Regions from separate parts of the Homo sapiens genome. Here regions 2 and 3 are each reported to be linked to region 1. The links are microRNA targets in miRTarBase. Many come from high-throughput screens and were not tested one by one. Region 1 holds a microRNA gene; each other region holds the end of a gene's coding sequence.

Region 1 (3,186 bases):
CACGTAGCACACACACTGCATGCAGCACACACACACCAGAGGACGCACCACACAGAGCACGCACAGCACACACCACACAGCGCACGCACCACACAGAGCACACGCGGCACACACAGCACACACAGCGCACGCACCACGCAGAGCACACACGGCACATGCAGCATACACACCAAACAGCGCACGCACCACACAGAGCACACGCGGCACACGCAGCACACACACCACACAGAGCACCTGGAGCACCCACAGCACACACACCACGCAGAGTACACGCGGCACACACACCACACACAGCGCATGCACAACACAGAGCACACACAGCACATGCACCACACGTAGCGCGCACACTGCATGCAGCACACACACCACACACAGCGCGTGCACCACACAGAGCACCTGCGGCACACACAGCACACACCGCACGCACCACACAGAGCACATGTGGCACACACAGTGCACGCACCACACAGCACCCGCGGCGCACACAGCACACGTGGCATATGGCCTCCATGACCCTGTGTCTTGAGGGCAGGTCCTACTTTTTGCTTTGTTGTGTTGGAGCGGAATTTCTCCCCTGGCTTCTATTGGAGTCCTAGATTATTTAAATCACTTCCTCTGTTAATTGTGCCTGGAATTAACCTGTTAGATTTACTTCCTAGCAGTTAGTTGCTCAGTATGGGTTTCTACACTATTAAAGCAACCTAGCGGTAGTACACAAGGTTTTGTTAGGATAGCTGTGAGATTTTTTTTCTCTAACAATCATCATTATTTCTGTGTCTGCTCCGTTTTTCTTCAGTGTTTTATATGATATTAATAGGGGATGTCTAATTTTGTATCTTTAAAAAAACTTTATCAAATCTGAAGCATTTTTCGTGTTATAGCTTCTCTATAATTTTTCATGGATATTGAATATTTGGTGTTGATATTCTTCACTCAGTTTTGAACATTGAGTTTTCTTCTAATGTTTTGTGCTTATGAAAACCATTTCTGTGTAACGTGTTTAAGTAGCTTATTTATCTGAAAGAACTCTAATAATGAAAAGAAATAAAAAGTTTTTCAGAAGCATGATCATATTCTTCCAGAAGAGTCAGGAACCATGTGTGCCAGGAAAGGGAAACGGGACTGAGCGTCTCGTAGCGAAACGCCTGCTGCAGACTTGACGCGGCTCCCCTCCAGGACGGGCTGGCGGCACACAGACTGTGCACTTACCTCACTGCCGGCCTCATAATAGTAATCAGTGTAAATGGTGTTTCTCTTTCGTTTTGTTATTTCGTGGCGTACGTGTTAAAGTGTGTGAAACTACAAGGCCAGCTAGTCCTTTCATCATTCCCTTTGGTGCAGGTTTTGGAGCAGCACCACAGGGCACACCCCTCGCCACTCTTTATGGGGAATTTTTGCCCAGGCAGGCAAAGGAGTCATCTTGGTCACAAGTCTCCCTTTTCCCCCTCCCCAGCATCTTCGATCCTGTCCCCACCCCTCCAGATGCATCCAGGGGTTGCAAGCCTGCCCCCCAACCAGTCCCCGTGAGGAACAGTGGCCGGGATTGTCCCAGGGCCCCTTCCAGCAGGGGGACCTCCTGACTTGAGAGTCCCCAAAGCCTTCCCAGGGCAGCTAGAATCTGCCTGGAGAGAAGGGATCTTGTCCCCAAGGGTTAGAGGCAGTAAACTAATAGCAAGGACAGCTGCCTTTAGCAATTGTGTGTGTCGCATGGCCGGTCCCTGCATTTTTCTTCAGTTCCAAAGCTGCACTGGCATTTTTATGGTCATCTCTGGAGTCCCTTTGATTCAAGAAATTATACCTCTAGGATGCCAACTAAACGAACAACAAACAGAAACTCCACCTGTTTGCTAGCATAACAGGCGTGAAGGCGGCAGTGTCGCCGGCGTCCTTCCGCGGAAGCCCAGTGTGTGCAGACAGCACGGGGTGGCGCTGCTCTCAGGTGCTCTGGCTGCTTGGGTTCCTGGCATGCTGATTTGTGACTTAAGATTAAAATCACATTGCCAGGGATTACCACGCAACCACGACCTTGGCTGCTCCTCCAGAAACCGTGGTCGCGCTCACTGCAGATTGGAGAACAGGTGCATCTCGTAGCTCTTCTTTGGAAACAAAAGAAGCCACCAGCTGAGGAAGATGCTCACCGGTCACCGTCCCTTTATTTATGCCCAGCGATGACCTCTCTAACAAGGTGCAGAGCTTAGCTGATTGGTGAACAGTGATTGGTTTCCGCTTTGTTCACAGTGGCTAAGTTCTGCACCTGAAGAGAAGGTGAGATGGGGACAGTTAAGTTGGAGCCGCTGGGGCAGAGGCCGTTGCTGACGGGCCGGCCGCTGCTGCACAGTCAGCTTGGGTGCGGAGCGCGATCCTGGAGGATGAGAGACCACTTGACCCCAAGGATGCACTGTCTCCTGCTGGGAATGCTAGCCATGTACTGAGTCCTTAAGTCTGTCCACAGAAACATGCACTAATCGGACATCTGTCTGAAAGGTCAAATGTATTGAAAGTTGCAAAAATTCTTCTTACAAAAAACTAAAACCAAATGCATCACCTAAGTCGTGTGAAATCATGTGGTAGCTCATGGCTGTGAGCGGGGCGGGGCGGGGCTTTCGGAGGAGCTCCTGTTGTTCTGGGCGCGGTGAACTCTCTCTTGTATTTGCAGTCCAGGCCTTCGCGTCTCCTGCGCCAGCAGACGGTGCCCACGGAGCTCCCAGCTGAGGCGCTGCTTCTCCGGGCTGTCGATTGGACCCGCCCTCCGGTGCCTACTGAGCTGATATCAGTTCTCATTTTACACACTGGCTCAGTTCAGCAGGAACAGGAGTCGAGCCCTTGAGCAAAAAGCCTTCGTGTCTGTAAGTGCCCGAGGCTCAGGAGAGCTGGGGCTCCCACTCGCGGCAGACAGGCCCGCGTCCACCCTGCGTCCACCCCGGCCCGGCGGCAGCACGGTGCCAGTCATCTGCATGTGCTCCTGCGGCGTGGGGGTTTGTAGACTTGGAAAACCCTGTTGGCAGAAAGTTAAGAGCTCCCAGGCCTGAAGGCAGGACACAGTGCCAGCAGGGGGCCGTTTGCCCCCATGTGTAAGGGAGGCAGGGCCCAGCTCTCCCACGGCGAGGTGAGCTGAGACTTTCTGAGAACAGTTAGAGTGGGTGCGTGTCTGAAATGGGTACTCCTAGCAGCTATTGTGTACGCAAA
Region 2 (3,000 bases), not on the chromosome of region 1:
ACAGGCCAGGAGTGAAAGAGTTCTGAGTGAAAGGCTGTTAGGCATGTTCTCCGGCCAGCAGGGCCCAGACCAGAATGGGAGCCCTGTTTGTGATGTCTGCGGTCCCTCCCTGGGGTCGATAAGCCCAGGGCTTGTCGGGGCAAATACAGAAGTATGAGCAGCATCTTTTCCTCTCGGTCCCTCGGGGAGATGAGAGACGTGTTGGCTAACCAGCTGCAGATATTCACCTCACATCTCTTGCTCTCCCCCAGGTCTCCCTACACCACCACCCGCTATGGAAGCCCCATCAACACGTTCACCGTGAGGCCTGGGACCCGCCATCCCATCTCCTATGTCTGCTCAGGGGCCCATCGGAAAGCCACCTCCTGAGCCAGGGGTTCTCTTAGCTCTACTCCAACAAACTGTGTCTTTAAGGATCTGGGCACTTGTTTCTTGTGGGGGGTGGGAGGTACACAGCAGGTGTTGGGCGACCTGACTCAGACACAGAGGAGTCTTTGATCCCCAAAGACCAACGATGAGAAGCAGTGGCCCAGGAAGACCGAGAGTGGGCTTCTGTTTCCCAAAGCGCTGGTGTGACTGTGGACTGTTTACACGTGGGGGGTGGGAGGGGAAGGAGGGTAGAGAGAAGGAACCATTAAGGACCTGGGCGCTGAGTTTCTGCTCTCTGGTACTATCTGCTTTAGCAAGAGTTATTTAAAACAGTTTTACAAGCACGGCCTACTGAGCAGGTTCTGAAAGCAAGGGGTGGGGCACTGACTGAACTGGAACCCATCGAGATAGCTGTGATTGCCTGTCAGGCCCTTGCAAAGGGCTGAGGCCCAGCTCTGTCTGGTGGGTGTGCAGGGCACCGAAGGGAGATCTTTAGCCTCCATCACCTGCCATCCCAAGCAAGAGTGGACACCTGGGGTTCCTAGCCGCATTGAGGTGGGACCAGGAATGTGTATGTATAACATGTGGAGAAGGACCATGTGTGGGGTGGGGAGTGAAGCTCCCACATGTGGAATGGAAGCCCTTTGCATTGGCCAAGGGCAGAGGTGGGAGATTGATGGTTCATTTTTCCTTGGCCCTAGCCCTTAGCTACAGGGAGGCCTAGAGAGAGGACACTTGGCAAGTTTAGGATGGGAAACAAGGTTAAGCCTGGCTTTGCTATTCAGACCTGTGCAGCCCTGATTTTGGGGACTGGGCCCAAGGAGCCATGAGTCTTAGGCTTGACACTAGGGGCCTTACATGGCCAGGTCTCATATGGGATTTGGAGAAGGCATTTTTCCTAACACTGATACTACAAGTCACCAATACTCTTGATGCCTTAAGATGCTAGAAAGCCTTGGAGAGTGGAGGCAGCAGAGATGGGAATGGAGGTCTGAAGAAGCTTGCTGCTGTTGGGGAATGTGTTTGGGAAAGTCAAGAGTGGTAGGATTGGTTGGCTGGGCGCGGTGGCTCACACCTGTAATCCCAGCACTTTGGGAGGCCGAGGCCGGTGGATCACTTGAGGTCAGAAGTTCGAGACCAGCCTGCCCAAATGGTGAAACCCCATCTCTACTAAAAATACGGAAAAAAAAAAAAAAAGAGTGCTAGGATTGGGCCAGTTAAGAGCAGGGGAGACCTGGCTGGGCATGGTGGCTCACACCTGTAATTCTAGCACTTTGGGAGGCTGAGGCGGGTGGATCATGAGGTCAAGAGATTAAGACCATCCTGGCCTACATGGCGAAACCCTGTCTCTACTAAAAATAAAAAAATGACCTGGGCATGGTGGTGGGCGCCTGTAGTCCCAGCTACTCGGGGCGCTGAGGCAGGAGAATCGCTCGAACCCAGGAGGTGGAGGTTGCAGTGAGCCGAGATTGCACAATTGCACTCCAGCCTGGCGACAGAGCGAGACTCGTCTCAAAAAAAAAAAAAAAAAAAAAAAAAGGAGCAGGGGAGACCTATCAGTAGGGTGACCACGTGTCCTTTGCCTGGGCAGTCCAGGTTTATGCTTGTTTTCCAGTGAATTAGACCCCCTTCCACTTTTCAAAAAAGTCCTGGTTTAGATGCTGTGATCACCAAACATATCAGGAAACAATATTCCTTGGTCTTGCTTCCCTATCTTCAGGTACTGGTGGGCCAAATTCCTGGGACCAGGTCAAGGTGGGCTGCCTCAGTAAGAAGGAAGGACTGGAGAGTGCCCATTTCAGAGGAGCAGGCTGGTGGGGGCCAGCCAGAAAGTAGTTCCCTTTGGGGGGAAGATGTTGGACCTTTATTATTTGTGGTAACCAGCCGAGGCTGGTTGTCAGGACAGCAGGTGAGCCACTTTAGGGAAGAAAGTGCAGGGGTGGGTGGATGCCCAGATTACCAAGGCCAGCCACCCTGATGGGGTAGGGTCTGGTTATCTGTGTTCAAGAAGCAAATCCCACCCCAGCCCCAGCACTAGCTCTCTATGTATGTATTTTCCCTGTACAATGTTTTATAAAAGAGATCATTAATTTATCTGCTATGTTAAGGCTCGAGGGGTGGGGCGTAGACTCTCAGCTGTATATTGCTCTGGGGTGGGCAGGGAAGGCTGAGTCTCACTTGACTTGGAAGATAAACAGGCCAGTTTGGACTGGCCTCCAGCTCCGTGGCTGTGTTTGTCTAACAAGGATTTGGGTAACTACTGGATACAAGCCACTGTGCTTAGTATGGATAGACTGCCATCAGCTCACCCACATGACTCCTGTTCATGGCAAGCTAATAGTCTGTCTGGTGGAAGAGGATTGAAAAAGCACACAAAAACATCATAAATTACAAGGAGTAGTAAGAAGGAAAAAACAGGGAACGTGAGAGAATAACTAGCGAGTGGGGAGAGGAGTGGATTTACTTTAACAGGGTAGTCAGGGAAGGCCTCTTGTGGTGGTGACATACTGATTTAGGCAAAGCGTCCAGCACGTGCCTAGCGCTTAGTAGTTGCTCAGCAAATGGCATCTTTGGGTGATGAATACCTCACATTTGTATATGGCCTGTCACAGTTTTCCATAAAGCTTTTTT
Region 3 (3,000 bases), not on the chromosome of region 1:
CTTCTCTACCTAAGTCTCATTACAAGTCTGTCCAGTTGCTTGCTCAGGTGTCTGGTGGCCCCTGGGGTGGGCTATTCAATGAGAACCTGTGTATTTGGTGGCCTGTGTGCATTAGGGTGCAGAAGCTGGATACCTACCAGGAGTACAAGGAGGCTGCGTCCTCTTACCAGGAAGCCTGGAGCACACTCCGGAAGCAGGTGTTTGGATCCTGGATCAGAAACCCACCGGATTATCACCAGTTCAAGTGAGAAGGAAATGTTTGCTCTGGTAGCAGGACCCTTCATCCTGAACTGCCTTCCTCCACGCAGGACAAGTCTTAGCTTTTTTGGTAGTTAAATCAGGGAACATTCTTTCTGAGCTTTGCATCTCTGTTGTGTAATACAGATGGAATCTGGAACTTAGAGCAAGCTATACTTGATTGAAGTAGCTCTCTGCTAAAATGGCATCTCACTAATGACCTCACTATCTGACTTCCATTGTGTTTTATTGCTTCTCTAAAATATGAAATCAGAGTTTGGAACATGATGCTTTGAAAGTACTCTGCAGCAGCTCTGTTTTATGGGTTCCTACATTGATTCAGCAAATATTTATTGAGCTGAAATGATGTTTGACGCTCTGCAAGTTTTACAGCTTTGCCTAGCATAGCGAATATATATTTTGTATTCCCAGCCTTTCTTTCTTCAGGGAGCCATTCTTTTCCCATTCTTCAGTGATCCTGCTCTGTGCCTCAGACTTGGCTGAAGCTAACCTTACTCCCTGGCTCTAGGAATAGCCTGTGAGCCAGCCCTGGACTGCCCTGGACTTGTTCTCAGAGGTATCAGGAAAGGCTTTCTGTTTTGATCTGGAGCTGTAAGGGTCACATAATCATGGGACTGCCGGTGGCCATCTTTTCCTACTACCTAGAGAAAGCCAGCAAAGAATGAAGGCAACAAAGGAAACAGCCAAGAGAATCAAAGATCTAGTAACACTGTTTAGATGTCTCAATTATGTGAGACAGATTCCTGTTGTTATTTTGATTAAGCCTGTTTGTGTTGGTTTTCTGACTTACAATTGAAAGAGTTCTGTCCAAAAAGCCAAAAGGTGGCCAGGCTTGGTGGCTCAGGCCTGTAATCCCAGCACTTTGGGAAGCCCAGGCAGGCAGATCACTTGAGGTCAGGAGTTCAAGACCAGCCTGGCCAACCTGGTGAAACCCTGTCTCTACTAAAAATGCAAAAACTAGCCGGGCATGGTGGCGCACACCTGTAATCCTAGCTACTCGGGAGGCTGAGGCAGGAGAATTGCTTGAACCCAGGAGGCGGAGGTAGTGGTGAGCAAAGATCGTACCGCTGCACTCCAGCCTGGGTGATAGAGCAAGACCCTATCTCAAAAAAAAAAAAAAAAAAAAAAAAAGAAGCCAAAAGGCCCTGCAGCAAATCAGCAATAGACCCAGCAGCCAATCCTGTTTTAACATCGAATGTTTAACACTCAACTTCAGACCTTGAATGATTGACTGAAAATGGAAGCTCCCATGTTGGGGTTACTCAAGGTCCTTATTGGTTCTTCAGCATTTTGTGGCTATAAATATTTTTAAATAACAGTTGTATTGAGATATAATTCACAGACCATAAAATTCACCCAACTAAAGTATACATTTTAAAAGTTTTTAGGCCGGGCACGGTGGCTTACGCCTGTAATTCCAACACTTTGGGAGGCTGAGGCAGGCAGATCACCTGAGGTCAGGAGTTCGAGACCAGTCTGGCCAACATGATGAAACCCCGTCTCTGCTAAAAATACAAAAATTAGCCGGGCATGGTGGTGCACGCCTGTAGTCCCAGCTACTTGGGAGGCTGAGGCAGGAGAATCACTTGAACCTGGGAGGCGGAGGTTGCAGTGAGTCAAGATCATGCCATTGCACTCCAGCCTGGGTGACAGAGTGAGATCCTGTCTCAAAAAAAAAAAAAAAAAATTTTTTTAGTATATCCACAGAGTTGTGCAACCATCAATTTTAGAACATTTTCATCACAAATTTTGTGCCTGTAATAGTTTCCTAGAGCTGTTTCTTAACGAAGTACCACAAGCTGGGTGGCTTAAGACAACAGAAATGTATTCCTGGCCGGGTGCAGTGGCTCACGCCTGTAATCCCAACACTTTAGGAGGCCGAGGTGGGCAGATCACGACGTCAGGAGATCAAGACCATCCTGGCCAACATGGTGAAGCCCCTTTCTACTAAAAATACAAAAATTAGCCAGGTGTATTGGCGCACGCCTATAGTCCCAACTACTCAGGAGGCTGAGGCAGAAGAATCTCTCAAACCCAGGAGGTGGAGGTTGCAGTGAGCCAGGATCGTGCCACTGCACTCTAGCCTGGGTGACAGAGCAAGACTCCATCTCAAAAAATAAGAAGAAAAGACTGTATCCCCTTTCAGTTCTGGAGGCTAGAAGTCCAAACAGGTTGTTGGTGGGGCTTCTGCTTCCTCTAAAAGCTTTAGGGCAGGGGCCCCCAGCCCCAGAGCCACAGACCATTACTTGTCTGTGGCCTGTCAGGAACAAGGTCACACAGCAGGAGATAAGTAACAGGTGAGCACTTGAAGTTTCATCTGTATTTATGGCTGCCCCCCATCGCTCACATTTCTGCCGTAGCTCCTCCTCCTGTCATACCAGCAGTGGCATTAGATTCTCATAGGAGCGTGAATCCTATTGTGAACTGTGCATGCAAGGGATCTAGGTTGCACACTCCTTATGAGAATATAATGCCTGATGATCTGTCAGTGTCTTCCATAACCCCCATATGGGACTGTCTAGTTGCAGGAAAACAAGCTCAGGGCTCCTACTGATTCTACCTTATGGTGAGTTGTATAATTATTTCATCATGTATTACGATGTAATAATAATAGAAATACAGTGCACAGTAAATGTAATTCACTTCAGTCATCCCGAAACTATCCCCCTATCCCCACCCCGGATCTGTGGAAAAATTATCTTCCATGAAACCAGTCCCTGGTGCCAAAAAGGTTGGGGACTG

Evidence for each region. The annotated mature microRNA hsa-miR-23b-5p reads UGGGUUCCUGGCAUGCUGAUUU and lies in region 1 at 1,954-1,975, shown strand. An mRNA with a match to its seed (bases 2 to 7 or 8) in the 3' UTR can be bound and repressed. Matches are read on the target gene's strand: a 7mer-m8 pairs with bases 2 to 8, a 7mer-A1 pairs with bases 2 to 7 and ends in A, and an 8mer does both.
Region 2: the mRNA of C6orf132 is a reported target of hsa-miR-23b-5p. Seed matches in the 3' UTR shown: 8mer at 764-771 and 7mer-A1 at 1,805-1,811.
Region 3: miRTarBase lists ADAT1 as a target of hsa-miR-23b-5p. Seed matches in the 3' UTR shown: 7mer-A1 at 1,284-1,290.

Annotation. Positions count from the first base shown.
Region 1 is chr9:95,083,274-95,086,459 of GRCh38, forward strand. It overlaps MIR23B (microRNA 23b), which reads left to right and starts at 1,935; the gene lies at 1,935-2,031. All of the region lies in intron 16 of AOPEP (aminopeptidase O (putative)), which reads left to right. It overlaps MIR27B (microRNA 27b), which reads left to right and starts at 2,172; the gene lies at 2,172-2,268. It overlaps MIR3074 (microRNA 3074), which reads right to left and starts at 2,821; the gene lies at 2,741-2,821. It also overlaps MIR24-1.
Region 2 is chr6:42,101,130-42,104,129 of GRCh38, reverse strand. It overlaps C6orf132 (chromosome 6 open reading frame 132), which reads left to right. Exons shown (of 5, transcript NM_001164446.3): 5 at 252-3,000. The coding sequence ends at 369. Among named protein-coding and RNA genes, the nearest start is that of C6orf132, 40 kb to the left of the region's middle.
Region 3 is chr16:75,597,464-75,600,463 of GRCh38, reverse strand. ADAT1 (adenosine deaminase tRNA specific 1) reads left to right here. Exons shown (of 10, transcript NM_001324445.2): 10 at 116-3,000. The coding sequence ends at 248. Among named protein-coding and RNA genes, the nearest start is that of ADAT1, 24 kb to the left of the region's middle.